Linked DNA regions of Homo sapiens. The protein of the gene in region 1 purifies or fractionates together with the protein of each later gene. This does not show direct contact. Each region holds a gene or a part of one and is shown on either strand. Other genes may lie near its edges.

Evidence for each region. Proteins that work in one complex are often made in the same cells at the same time.
Region 2: the proteins of SLC14A1 (region 1) and ABCA3 purify together in Homo sapiens (affinity purification with mass spectrometry; one large-scale study listed by BioGRID and IntAct). This does not show direct contact.
Region 3: the proteins of SLC14A1 (region 1) and BCL7B purify together in Homo sapiens (affinity purification with mass spectrometry; one large-scale study listed by BioGRID and IntAct). This does not show direct contact.
Region 4: the proteins of SLC14A1 (region 1) and DSG2 purify together in Homo sapiens (affinity purification with mass spectrometry; one large-scale study listed by BioGRID and IntAct). This does not show direct contact.

The regions. Positions count from the first base shown.
Region 1 is NC_000018.10:45,750,601-45,753,020, forward strand, and holds the end of SLC14A1 (urea transporter 1), read left to right. Parts: 3' UTR 1-1,577; coding exon of another isoform or gene 1,578-1,622; 3' UTR 1,623-1,920; downstream 1,921-2,420. UniProt on the Homo sapiens protein: Mediates the transport of urea driven by a concentration gradient across the cell membrane of erythrocytes.
Region 2 is NC_000016.10:2,278,555-2,281,728, reverse strand, and holds part of ABCA3 (phospholipid-transporting ATPase ABCA3), read left to right. Parts: intron 1-219; coding exon 220-348; intron 349-507; coding exon 508-702; intron 703-2,598; coding exon 2,599-2,786; intron 2,787-3,174. UniProt on the Homo sapiens protein: Catalyzes the ATP-dependent transport of phospholipids such as phosphatidylcholine and phosphoglycerol from the cytoplasm into the lumen side of lamellar bodies, in turn participates in the lamellar bodies biogenesis and homeostasis of pulmonary surfactant.
Region 3 is NC_000007.14:73,544,191-73,547,690, reverse strand, and holds part of BCL7B (B-cell CLL/lymphoma 7 protein family member B), read left to right. Parts: intron 1-3,500. UniProt on the Homo sapiens protein: Positive regulator of apoptosis. Plays a role in the Wnt signaling pathway, negatively regulating the expression of Wnt signaling components CTNNB1 and HMGA1.
Region 4 is NC_000018.10:31,504,677-31,508,176, forward strand, and holds part of DSG2 (desmoglein-2 preproprotein), read left to right. Parts: intron 1-3,500.

The DNA of each region.
Region 1 (2,420 bases):
TTGTCAATCAAAATTATTCTGTATTGCAACTTTTCTCAGAGATTGCAAAGGATTTTTTAGGTAGAGATTATTTTTCCTTATGAAAAATGATCTGTTTTAAATGAGATAAAATAGGAGAAGTTCCTGGCTTAACCTGTTCTTACATATTAAAGAAAAGTTACTTACTGTATTTATGAAATACTCAGCTTAGGCATTTTTACTTTAACCCCTAAATTGATTTTGTAAATGCCACAAATGCATAGAATTGTTACCAACCTCCAAAGGGCTCTTTAAAATCATATTTTTTATTCATTTGAGGATGTCTTATAAAGACTGAAGGCAAAGGTCAGATTGCTTACGGGTGTTATTTTTATAAGTTGTTGAATTCCTTAATTTAAAAAAGCTCATTATTTTTTGCACACTCACAATATTCTCTCTCAGAAATCAATGGCATTTGAACCACCAAAAAGAAATAAAGGGCTGAGTGCGGTGGCTCACGCCTGTAATCCCAGCACTTTGGGGAGCCCAGGCGGGCAGATTGCTTGAACCCAGGAGTTCAAGACCAGCCTGGGCAGCATGGTGAAACCCTGTATCTACAAAAAATACAAAAATTAGCCAGGCATGGTGGTGGGTGCCTGTAGTTCCAGCTACTTGGGAGGCTGAGGTGGGAAAATGACTTGAGCCCAGGAGGAGGAGGCTGCAGTGAGCTAAGATTGCACCACTGCACTCCAACCTGGGCGACAAGAGTGAAACTGTGTCTCTCAAAAAAAAAAAAAAACAAACAAAAACAAAAACAAAACAAAACAAAACAAAACAAAACAGGTAAGGATTCCCCTGTTTTCCTCTCTTTAATTTTAAAGTTATCAGTTCCGTAAAGTCTCTGTAACCAAACATACTGAAGACAGCAACAGAAGTCACGTTCAGGGACTGGCTCACACCTGTAATCCCAGCACTTTGGGAGATGGAGGTAAAAGGATCTCTTGAGCCCAGGAGTTCAAGACCAGCTTGGGCAACATAGCAAGACTCCATCTCTTAAAAAATAAAAATAGTAACATTAGCCAGGTGTAGCAGCACACATCTGCAGCAGCTACTCAGGAGGCTGAGGTGGAAAGATCGCTTGTGCACAGAAGTTCGAGGCTGCAGTGAGCTATATGATCATGTCACTGCACTCCAGCCTGTGTGACCGAGCAAGACCCTATCTCAAAAAAATTAATTAATTAATTAATTAATTAATTTAAAAAGGAAGTCATGTTCATTTACTTTCCACTTCAGTGTGTATCGTGTAGTATTTTGGAGGTTGGAAAGTGAAACGTAGGAATCCTGAAGATTTTTTCCACTTCTAGTTTGCAGTGCTCAGTGCACAATATACATTTTGCTGAATGAATAAACAGAAATAGGGAAGTAAACCTACAAATATTTTAGGGAGAAGCTCACTTCTTCCTTTTCTCAGGAAACCAAGCAAGCAAACATATCGTTCCAATTTTAAAACCCAGTGACCAAAGCCTTTGGAACTATGAATTTGCAACTGTCATAGGTTTATGGATATTGCTGTGGAGAAGCTCAATTTTCAGTGTTTGAACTGAACCCTTTCTTGTTAGGGAACGTGTGAAAGAAGAATTGTGGGGAAAAAAAAGCAAGCATAACCAAAGATCATCAGCAGTGAAGAATCTAGGCTGTGGCTGAGAGAACCAGAGGCCTCTAAAATGGACCCGAGTCGATCTTCAGAACAGGGATCTACCATGCAGGAGCTTCTTGTGCTCACACAAATCTGTAAATGGGAACATTGTACATTGTCGAATTTAAATGATATTAATTTTCTCAAGCTATTTTTGTTACTATTTTCCTAAAATTGAATATTTGCAGGGAGCACTTATACTTTTTCCTAATGTCTGTATAACAAATTTCTATGCAAGTACATGAATAAATTATGCTCACAGCTCAGTTTTGTATAATGTGCCATTTATAGCCATCATGTATATGAACAATCACAGGCATAAGTAGGTATCGCTTATGTTGCACGTGCTAGAATCCTTATTCCTTTCTTACACTTGGTAATAGCACCAGATGTATAGTTGAGTAAACCCTTTTCAATTTCAGATTGGCAGGCCCATCCCCTTGGGTATCCTCTCAACTATCCATTATTCTTTCAACTCCTGGATGAGAATGAATAACTGAGGACAGTTGTTCAGGACATGCTCCTAACACTTTGAGATCAATATCCCAAGAGCCACTTCTATGCATTCCCAGACAGGCCCTGGGCACCACCATCAGGGCTGACCCTGGGCCACAGCATGCCTCAGGGGTCAGCTCTCTAGGACCAGCCACTTGTCAGAATGTTATCCCCTGAGGCTGAAGCCACAGCCATGCTTGTCTCTTCCACAGAAGCACTTCTCTTCCACACCCTTTCACCACAGTTGGCAGATTTGAAAGAAAATATGGTA
Region 2 (3,174 bases), on another chromosome or scaffold:
AGATAGTTTATGTCTCCTGGATGCTAGTTTAGCCCCGTAAGACCACTGTGTCTTCTAGTAAAAGGTCTGAGTCGCACCTGTGGGGCCTGAGATTGGGACGAGAAGCCTTGAAGGCCTTAGTCCCACCAGACCTCCCACATCCACCCCCGCCCCTCCCTTCTCCACGGAAGCCGCCCTGCGGCTGGGTTCACGCATGCGGTCTTTGTCCTGGTCAATCAGACAGAATTATACACCCGGATGCCTGTGCTTCCTGAGGACCAAGATGTAGCGGACGAGAGGACCCGCATCCTGGCCCCCAGTCCGGACTCCCTGCTCCACACACCTCTGATTATCAAGGAGCTCTCCAAGGTACCCTTGCAATTTGGGGTGGAGTCCTTCCTGCCAGCTGACTACCTGGCTGTCCCCAGGGTCCGACCCCATCCCTGGAAGCTTTCGGCGCTGAGGCTCAGACTGCTCTGCTTTGCGTCCAGGCCTCCGCATTCCGTGTTTTCTGTTGGGTGCCTGCAGGTGTACGAGCAGCGGGTGCCCCTCCTGGCCGTGGACAGGCTCTCCCTCGCGGTGCAGAAAGGGGAGTGCTTCGGCCTGCTGGGCTTCAATGGAGCCGGGAAGACCACGACTTTCAAAATGCTGACCGGGGAGGAGAGCCTCACTTCTGGGGATGCCTTTGTCGGGGGTCACAGAATCAGCTCTGATGTCGGAAAGGTGGGTGCAGCCAGGGAGGCTCTGAAGGGGTGAGACAGGCATGGCTGGAGGGGGCACCCTGGAGGCAGGGACAGAGGGATGCTGTCCCCAAACAGCTGCTGCATCTGTGGCTTGAAATGGGCCCAGCACATGCCTCTGGACAGCGAGACAAGGTAATGAGCTAAAGCTAAGCTTCGCCAGAACTAGCAGGTGATGGGAGGGGAGAGAGATGGGTGCCAACATCCGTGAGCCCAGAGAGGCGCATTCAGCACTGACAGCCACCTCTGTGCAGAGGCCATTCTGTGTCCAGGCAGCTCAGGTGTGGGGTTAGAGGCCTTGCTGAGTGAAGGGATGGAAGGCCCTGGGCCCGCCCAGCTTTCCCATGTTGAGCTGAGCCCCACCAGCTCCCCCGCAGAAGGACCAGAGGCAGCCCTCCTGCACCTCTGCCCGGGGCCTGCATGGGAATTCAAGTGTGCCAAGCAGAGCAGGGGAAATGGTAAGCAGGGCCTGGGGCTGAGAAGTGGCCGCGGAGTCCTCTCCTGAGCTCACACCAGGGGTGCCTGGACAGCAGAGGCCCTGGGCCAGAGCACATGCAGGCCCTCTCGGGAGGAAAGCCTCATCCTAGGCTGCAGACTCCCCCATAGAGGGTTCCAGGGCTTACAGGCAATGCACAGCAAACAAACAGAGGAGATGGTACCATGGCTGGAAGCAATAGACACAGGCCCCATGGGGGGACAAGCACATAGGCGTTAGATCTGCATCATCAGGCCAGATTATAAAAGATTATAAACTCACTGTGTCTACAGAAATAAATTATGCAATTGAAAATCTATGCAGGGGAGAGAAAACCGTATGTGATCTAGCAATGGAGGAGAGGGTGAGAAGTCCCCAGTACATGTAATCTGAGTTCCAGAAGGAAGAGAGAGAGAGAGTGGCAGGGGGTAGTAGCCAAAAAGGTAGTGGCTAAGACTTTCCCCAAACTGATTAAAAACAGATTCTGGGCTGGGAGCGTGGCTCACGCCTATAATCCCAGCTTTGGAAGGCCAAGGCAGGCAGATCACTTGAGGTCTAGAGTTCGAGACCAGCCTGGCCAACATGGCAAAATGCTGTCTCTACCAAAGAAAAATACAAAAATTAGCAGGGCATGGTGGCAGGTGCCTATAATCCTAGCTACTCGGGAGCCTGAGGCATGAGAATCACTTGAGCCTGGGAGGCAGAGGTTGTAGTGAGCCGAGATCATGCCACTGCGCTCTACCAGTGTAAGGGAGACAGAGTAAGACTCTGTCTCAAAAAAAAAAAAAAAAATTCTGGAAGCTTGAGAACCCCAAAGAAGGAAGGTAAAGAAAAAGAAATCCAGTCTCTGGAATCCACAGAACCCAGGCACTCCTGCCCCCGACCAGCTGCTGAAGGTAGCTAAGCAGATGGCAGCAGGCACGTCTTAATTCAGCTGGACGTGGTCACTTGTGCAGAGAACAGCTGCTGCACCATCTGACCAAGCAGTACTCACCCCAAACGTGGTGCCCACAAATCTTTCTTCTTAGAGGGAGAAGAAAGAGTCCTAGCACATCAGATGTCCCAGGTGTGAATGAGTGGGTAGCCAGCTCTGAGTCTGCTTCTACGTAAAGGCCATTCTTGCACCACCTAACCCCATGGCTGCCTGTCCTGGACCAGGCTCTGAGAGCAGCTCTGGAAGCCTCCCTGCACCAGGCACATCCTTCCTGTGTCCCTGTTCCAAGAGCTTCCACTGTGGGCAGCCACCACGGCCTGTGCATAGCTCCAGCGCCCCCGTGTACACACACTGGCAGGAACCACAGACAGGCGCAGTGGTGGGCACCTCAAGGGTAGTCCCCGTGGTCCTCTGGAGGAAGGAGGCTTCCCTCCAACCCGCCTCCCTCCCCGGCTATGCTCCGACCCCAGGTGCGGCAGCGGATCGGCTACTGCCCGCAGTTTGATGCCTTGCTGGACCACATGACAGGCCGGGAGATGCTGGTCATGTACGCTCGGCTCCGGGGCATCCCTGAGCGCCACATCGGGGCCTGCGTGGAGAACACTCTGCGGGGCCTGCTGCTGGAGCCACATGCCAACAAGCTGGTCAGGACGTACAGGTGCACCTCCCGAGCCCTGGCCCTTCCCAGAGTGGAGTCAGAATCAAGGTCCCCATAGCATAGAGCTGGGAGTGACCGCTCAGGTCAGCAGCCAGAGCTCCTGCTTGTGGCTCCAGGATGGAGCTGGGATGTGGTGGTGTGACCCAGGTAGCTCCACGTAGGAAAGGGACTGCCCTGACAGTGCCTGCCACCTAGGGACAAAGCCAGCAGTGAGAGATGTCAGGGTCGGCAGGTCCCCTTTAGGTGCAGGCAGATGTCTTCCCATGTAGGTGCGTGCACCGGGCCCCTGGGAACAGCCTTCTCTGGGGCCTCCAGCCCTATGCGGTGGGCTTTCCAGGTGCACACACAGCTCCTTCCTCTTCACTAGGGCTGTTCTGCAATTGCTGGG
Region 3 (3,500 bases), on another chromosome or scaffold:
ATTTTACCTGTATATGAAATTCTAGGTTCAAAATTATTTTCTTTCAGCACTTTGAAGCTATTACTGAATTGTACATCCAGTGTCGCTGTTAAGAAATGTGATGTTATTCCCATGCTTGAGTCTTTGTAGGTGATCTACTTGGCTTCCTGGAAACTTTAGCATTTCTTCTATATTTGATCTCCTAGGAATTCCCTCAAAATATCCTGTAATATTTCTTTTCCTTTTTTTTTGAGACTGTCTCACTCCATAGCTCATGCTGGAGTACAGTGGTGCAATGATGGTTCACTGTAGCCTCAAATTCCTGAGCTCAAGAAATAGTTATGTCTCCACCTCCCAAGTAACGGGGACTACAGGCACGTGCCACCACGCCTGGCAAACTTTTAAATTATTTGTAGAGACAGGGTCTTGCTGTATTTCCCAGGCTGGTCTCAAACTCCTGGGCTCAAGCGATCCTTCTGTCTTGGCCTCCCAAAGTGCTGGGATCACAGGTGTGAGCCACTGCACCCACGCAGCTGCTTGCTTGCTTGCTTTTTTTTTTGAGATGGAGTTTTGCTCTTGTTGCCCAGGCTGGAGTGCAATGGCACAATCTCAGCTCACCGCAACCTCCACCTACCAGGTTCAAGTGATTCTTCTGCCTCAGCCTCGCGAGTAGCGCTTGCCTCACCATGCCCAGCTACTTTTGTATTTTTAGTAGAGATGGGGTTTCTCCGTGTTGTCAGGCTGGTCTTGAACTCCTGACCTTAGGTGATCCGCCCGCCTTGGCCTCCCAAAGTGCTGGGATTACAGGCGTGAGCCACCACGCCTGGCCAACTGCTTTATTTCTTAACTTTTCTCTCATTCATTTCATTTCTTGTCTTTCCTGGTGCATTCTGAGTTTCTCAACGCAGTTTTTGCTCATTAATCTTTTATTTAGCTGTATGTATTTCAATTAACCTCATTCACTTAATTTTTATTTGAGCAATTGTATTTTTCATAACAAATTGCCTCAATTGGTTCTTCCTCAAAACGACTTTTTTTTTTTTTGAGACAGAGTCTCGCTGTGTCACCCAGGCTGGAGTGCAGTGGCATGATCTCATCTCACTGCAGCCTCCACTTTGCAGGTTCAAATGATTCTACTGCCTCAGCCTCCTGAGTAGCTGGGATTACAGGCATGTGCCACCATGCCCAGCTAATTTTTTTCTATTTTTAGTAGAGACAGGTTTCACCATATTGGCTAGGCTGGTCTCGAACTCCTGACCTCAAGTGATCTGCCTACCTTGGCCTCCCAAAAAGTGCTGTGATTACAGGCTGTGAGTCACTGCCCCTGGCTAAAACAACTTTTCAATATTATCCTTATCTTTCTGAGCAAATCCATGTTTAATTTCAGTTATTCTGCTCCTTCTGGTACAGACTGTTCTGTTTATCAGGGTGCCTGTGTTCCTCCAATCTCTGGTGAGTTTTATGCGTGCACTCACCTTTTATTCCCTTGGGACTCTCAATTGCATTGGCTGGTAATGTGTAACTACGAGGAGGACGGAAGCCTGATCCGTAGTTTTTCTTTCTTTTTTTTTTTTTTTTTTGAGATGGAGTCTCGCTCTGTCACCCAGGCTCGAGTGCAGTGGCACGATCTTGGCTCACTGCAAGCTCTGCCTCCTGGGTTCACGCCATTCTCCTGCCTCAGCCTCCCAAGTAGCTGGGACTACAGGCACCCGCCACCACGCTCAGCTAATTTTTTTGTATTTTTAGTGGAGGCGGGTGAAAACCGTGTTAGCCAGGATGGTCTCAATCTCCTGACCTCGTGATCGGCCCACCTCGGCCTCCCACAGTGCTGGGATTACAGGCGTGAGCCACCGCGCCCGGCCAGTTTTCCTTTCTGTAAATGAATTTAGGAGGTTGAGGTTAGCCTCAGGGTTCAGCCTCTCCCTTTTGCTCTCTGCTGTCCTCTCTGGCTCCAGGGAACCTCCTAGCACCAACTGTATGGACTCTGCCTTTATCTGAGAGCAGCCATCCCAAGAAGTTCTAGGATGCCAAACTCATGGAGTTGATGGGGCGTGGTTCTGGAGCAACTGTTTATTCCCCCATCCAGCCTGGCTCTGGCCATTACCCACAGGGGTCAAAGGTCAAGCAGTTAAATCTCTTGGGCATTGTGTATAGACAGGAGTAGATGCTGCTAGAAAACCCCCTTTCCTTGGCCGAGTGCGATGGCTCACGCCTGTAATCCCAGCACTTTGGGAGGCTGAGGCGGGCGGATTGAGACCATCCTGGAGCCAGGAGATCGAGACCATCCTGGCTAACATGGTGAAACCCCATCTCTACTAAAAAATACAAAAAATTAGCTGGGCATGGTAGTGGGCGCCTGTAGTCCCAGCTACTCGGGAGGCTGAGGCAAGAGAATGGCGTGAACCTGGGAGGTGGAGCTTGCAGTGAGCCGAGATTGTGCCATGGCACTCCAGCCTGGGTGACAGAGCAAGACTCTGTCTCAAAAAACAAACAAAAAATTGAGTTATTAACAAAAATTACGTTACTAATATAATGCATCTACCGGAAATGTATAAAAAGTGTGAACTGGTAAATTTGAGGCTACTCAGATTTAAACTTTTGGCTTTTGGGATGCTCTCATTTTCATATGCTTGGATTTACTCTGGGCTTTTTTTTTTTTGAGTTAGGGTCTAACTGTGTTGCCCAGGTTGGAGTGCACAGTCATAGCTCACTGCAGCCTCAAACTTTCAGGCTCAAGCGATCCTCCCACCTCAGCCTTCTCAGTAGCTGGGACCACCAGCCTATGCCACCATACATGGCTCATTTTTTATTTTTTTGTAGAGATGGGGTCTTACTATGTTGCCCAGGCTGGTCTCAAACTCCTGGGCTCAAGGGATCCTCCCACCTCCGCCTCCTCAAGTGCTGGGATTACAGGCATGAGCCACTGTGCCTGGCCCTTGGGCTTTCTTGTTGCAAGCTGGTGCTTACCTGCCCACTGTGGTTGCCCTGCACTTATAACCTACATCTTTCTTGAAACAAATGTTATAGGTAAAAATAAACATGGGGTGATCATTTTGTTTTTTGGGTTTTTTTGTTTGTTTCTTTTTGAGATGGAGTTTCGCTCTTTCGCCCAGGCTGTTATGAAGTGGCAGAATCTTGGCTCACTGCAACTTCCACCCCCCAGGTTCAAGCGATTCTCCTGTCTCAGCCTCCAGAGTAGCTGGGATTACAGGCACATGCCACCATGCCAGGCTCATTTTTGTATTTTTATTTATTTATTTATTTATTTATTTTATTTTTTGTTTTATTTTATGTTTTTTTAGATGGAGTCTCGCACTGTAGCCCAGGCTGGAGTGCAGTAGTGCCATCTTGGTTCACTGCAACCTCCACCTCAAGCAATTCTCCTGCCTCAGCCTCCCAAGTAGCTGGGATTACAGGCACATGCCACCACACTCGGCTGATTTTTGTATTTTTAGTAGAGATAGGGTTTCACAATGTTGGCCAGGCTGATCTTGAACTCCTGACCTCAGGTGATCCATGCG
Region 4 (3,500 bases), about 14 Mb from region 1:
AATGTCCCCAGTGGCCAGGCAATCCATGCTCGTCATTGAGCCGCACTGCCCTGCTCTCTGTTATGTAGCATCTCTCCGCCCTACTCAGATACTTTCCCCAGGACCTAAGCTTAACATGTCTACAATCTGTCTTCTGGAAATTGCATCTTTCTAGCCACTCAGACTGAAAACGTTGGCACCCTCTGACTCCTTCCCTATTATCCCCACACAGGGCATTGCCAAGGATTTTTGTCCCCATAAAGACTCCTACTTCTACCTGTCTATCTCATTGCCATTCCCCTGATACTGTTCCTCATTCCATCTCCCTGACTTAGTAATTTAATCTCTGAACTGTCTCCTGCCTTTTATCTTGCACAGTACTGCCAAAAAATCTTCAGAATCACTAGCGACATAGTCTCCCTAATCAGAAGCTGGCAACGACTCTCCACTCCTTATAAGATCAGTGAAGAGCCTCAGCTCAACGCTTTGTCCTTATTTTCTACTTGCCACCATCGTATAGTTCTAGGTGCCAAACTGCACTACTTCTCATTTTTTGTCCAAATATCTCCATGTTCTGGCACATGGAGTCCCTCATCTGTGCGTTTTCCTTCCTCCTGTATGCACAGAAACAGATTATCTTCCATTTCCAAGGCCAAGCCCATTGCTATCTCCTTGCTAAACCTCTCCTGATTTCCCCGCAAGGAAGTAATCTTGCCTTTTCTGAGTTCCCCAGAACTATTTTTATAGCCGTCAGTTATACAATTAAGGTTTCCTACCTCATAGTAGTTTGATCCTCCTATTAAACTGTAAGCTTCTTCAGAGCAAGATCTTTGTATCTTTTATCTATAAACTAGCTAAATGCCTTGGGCACGGACGTATTCTTTAAAAATGTGAGTTAAAGTATCTTTCTGTGTTTAGAAAAGCTGGAATAATGATATGGATTTCATGTGTTTAAGAGAATTATTTAATGCCCAGATAGGTTAAGTAGTAATTTTTTTTTCTTTTTTTTTTTTTTTCTTTTTTTTGAGATGGAGTCTCTCTCTTTCACCAGGCTGGAGTGCAGTGGTGCAGTCTCGGCTCACTGCAGCTTCCGCCTCCCAGGTTCCAGCGATTCTCCTGCCTCAACCTCCCGAGTAGCTGGGACTACAGGTGCACGCCACCACGCCCATCTAATTTTTGTATTTTTAGTAGAGACAGAGTTTCACCATGTTGGCCAGAATGGTCTTGGTCTCTTGACCTGGCCCGCCTCAGCCTCCCAAAGTGCTGGGATTACAGGCGTGAGCCACCGCACCTGGCCGAGTAGTAAATTTTTGTTTAAATTTTATGCATTTAGCAGTCACAAATTGGGCGTCTACTATATGACCAACAGTCTTCTAAGGACATGTGAACTGCCCCCTGCAATCCTGGAGCTTACAGTGGAGAAAGGAGTATAAGGACAAGAACTTGACATTTTTTGAATATCCGCTGTGTGCCAGTCACTGGATTTAATGAAAGTTAATAATGGGTGAAACTGAATCAAACCCAGGTTCACCTGGCACCAAATGCCTGTCTGTCAACCCAGAGGCATCATCGTGAATTCCCCTTACAGCAGTTTGCTACAGTGAGTCATCAATAAGGTCCGAACTTCTGGAACTAGATAATTAATTTCACTGCAAATTAGAATCATTCTAGAAAGGAAAAAAACAAGAAATGTAAATTAAGATTTACCTCATTTCAGAGATATAATCCTGCAAAACTGTACATATAACTTTCTAAAGCCCTTGATTTTCACTCTTTTCAATTTTGCTGATCCACTTATTTGAGACCAATGAAACGCCTGCTTCCCACTTTAGACCTTGGAATTGCCTGTCGGTTAATTTCTGGTAGTTCCTGCAGTTTGCCTTACTGACAGGCCAGTGCCATCTAATGGTAAAAAAGGACAGTCTGAAGCTCTTGGTTTTCTTAAACTGCCCAGTGAAAAGAAATCATTTTCTTCATTTTACTTTTCAGTTCAGGAATATATTGCAGCAAAAGAGTGGAGACAACCTATAATTTTTGTTTATCAAATTTTGTGAAGTCTGTTATACAGCTTTATTTATATTTTGCCTAATTCCAAAAGCATTTGTGGCCATTACAGAAAACACCTACCAATAAAAGAGTAAAATATTTTTTACATGTCTAGTCATTTAATAAATGCTATTTTGAATTGAAATTGTATTTTAGTTAGTTTGCTTGTTTGAGCAATCCAACGACTTCAAGGAAAAGAAAAAGTATCGTTTTGCTTTTTTGTTTTTTCTTTTTTTTTAATTATACTTTAAGTTCTGGGGTACATGTGCAGAACGTGCAGGTTTGTTACATAGGTTTACACATGCCATTGTGGTTTGCTGCACCCATCAACTCGTCATCTGTATTAGGTATTTCTCCTAGTACTATCCCTCCCCTACCCCCACAGCCTCAACAGGCCGCAGTGTGTGACGTTCCCCTCCCTGTGTCCATGTGTTCTCGTTGTTCAACTCCCCACTTATAAGTGAGAACATGTGGTGTTTGGTTTTCTGTTCTTGTGTTAGTTTGCTGAGAATGATGGTTTCCAGCTTCATCCATGTCCCTGCAAAGGACATGAGCTCATCCTTTTTTATGGCTGCATAGTATTCCATGGTGTATATGTACCACATTTTCTTTATCCAGTCTATCATTGATGGGCATTTGGGTTGGTTCCAAGTTTTTGCTGTTGTGAATAGTGCCTCAATAAACATATGTGTGCATGTGTCTTTATAGTAGAATGATTTATAATCTTATGGGTATATACCCAGTAATGGGATTGCTGAGTCAAATGGTATTTCTGGTTCTAGATCCTTGATGAATCGCCACACTGTCTTCCACAATGGTTGAACTAATTTACAGTCCCACCAACAGTGTAAAAGCATTCCTATTTCTCCATATCCTCTCCAGCATCTGTTGTTTCCTGGCTTTTTAATGATCGCCATTCTAACTGGTGTGAGATGGTATCTCATTGTGGTTTTGATTTGCATTCCCCTAATGACCAGTGATGATGAGCTTTTTTTCATGTTTGTTGGCTGCATAAATGTCTTCTTTTGAGAAGTGTCTGTTCATATCCTTCACCCACCTTTTGATAGGGCTGAGTGTTTTTTTCTTGTAAATTTGTTTAAGTTCCTTGTAGATTCTGGATATTAGCCCTTTGTCAGATGGATAGATTGCAAAAATTTTCTCCCATTCTGTAGGTTGCCTGTTCACTCTGATGATGGTTTCTTTTGCTGTGCAGAAGCTCTTTAGTTTAATTAGATCCCATTTGTCAATTTTGGCTTTTGTTGCCATTGCTTTAGGTGTTTTAGTCATGAAGTCTTTGCCAATGCCTATATCCTGAATGGTATTGCCTAGGTTTTCTTCTAGGATTTTTATGGTTTTAGGTCTTACATTTAAGTCTTTAATCCATCATGAGTTAATTTTTGTATAAAGTGTAAGGAAGGGGTCCAGTTTCAGTTTTCTGCATGTGGCTAGCCAGTTTTCCCAACACCATAAAATGG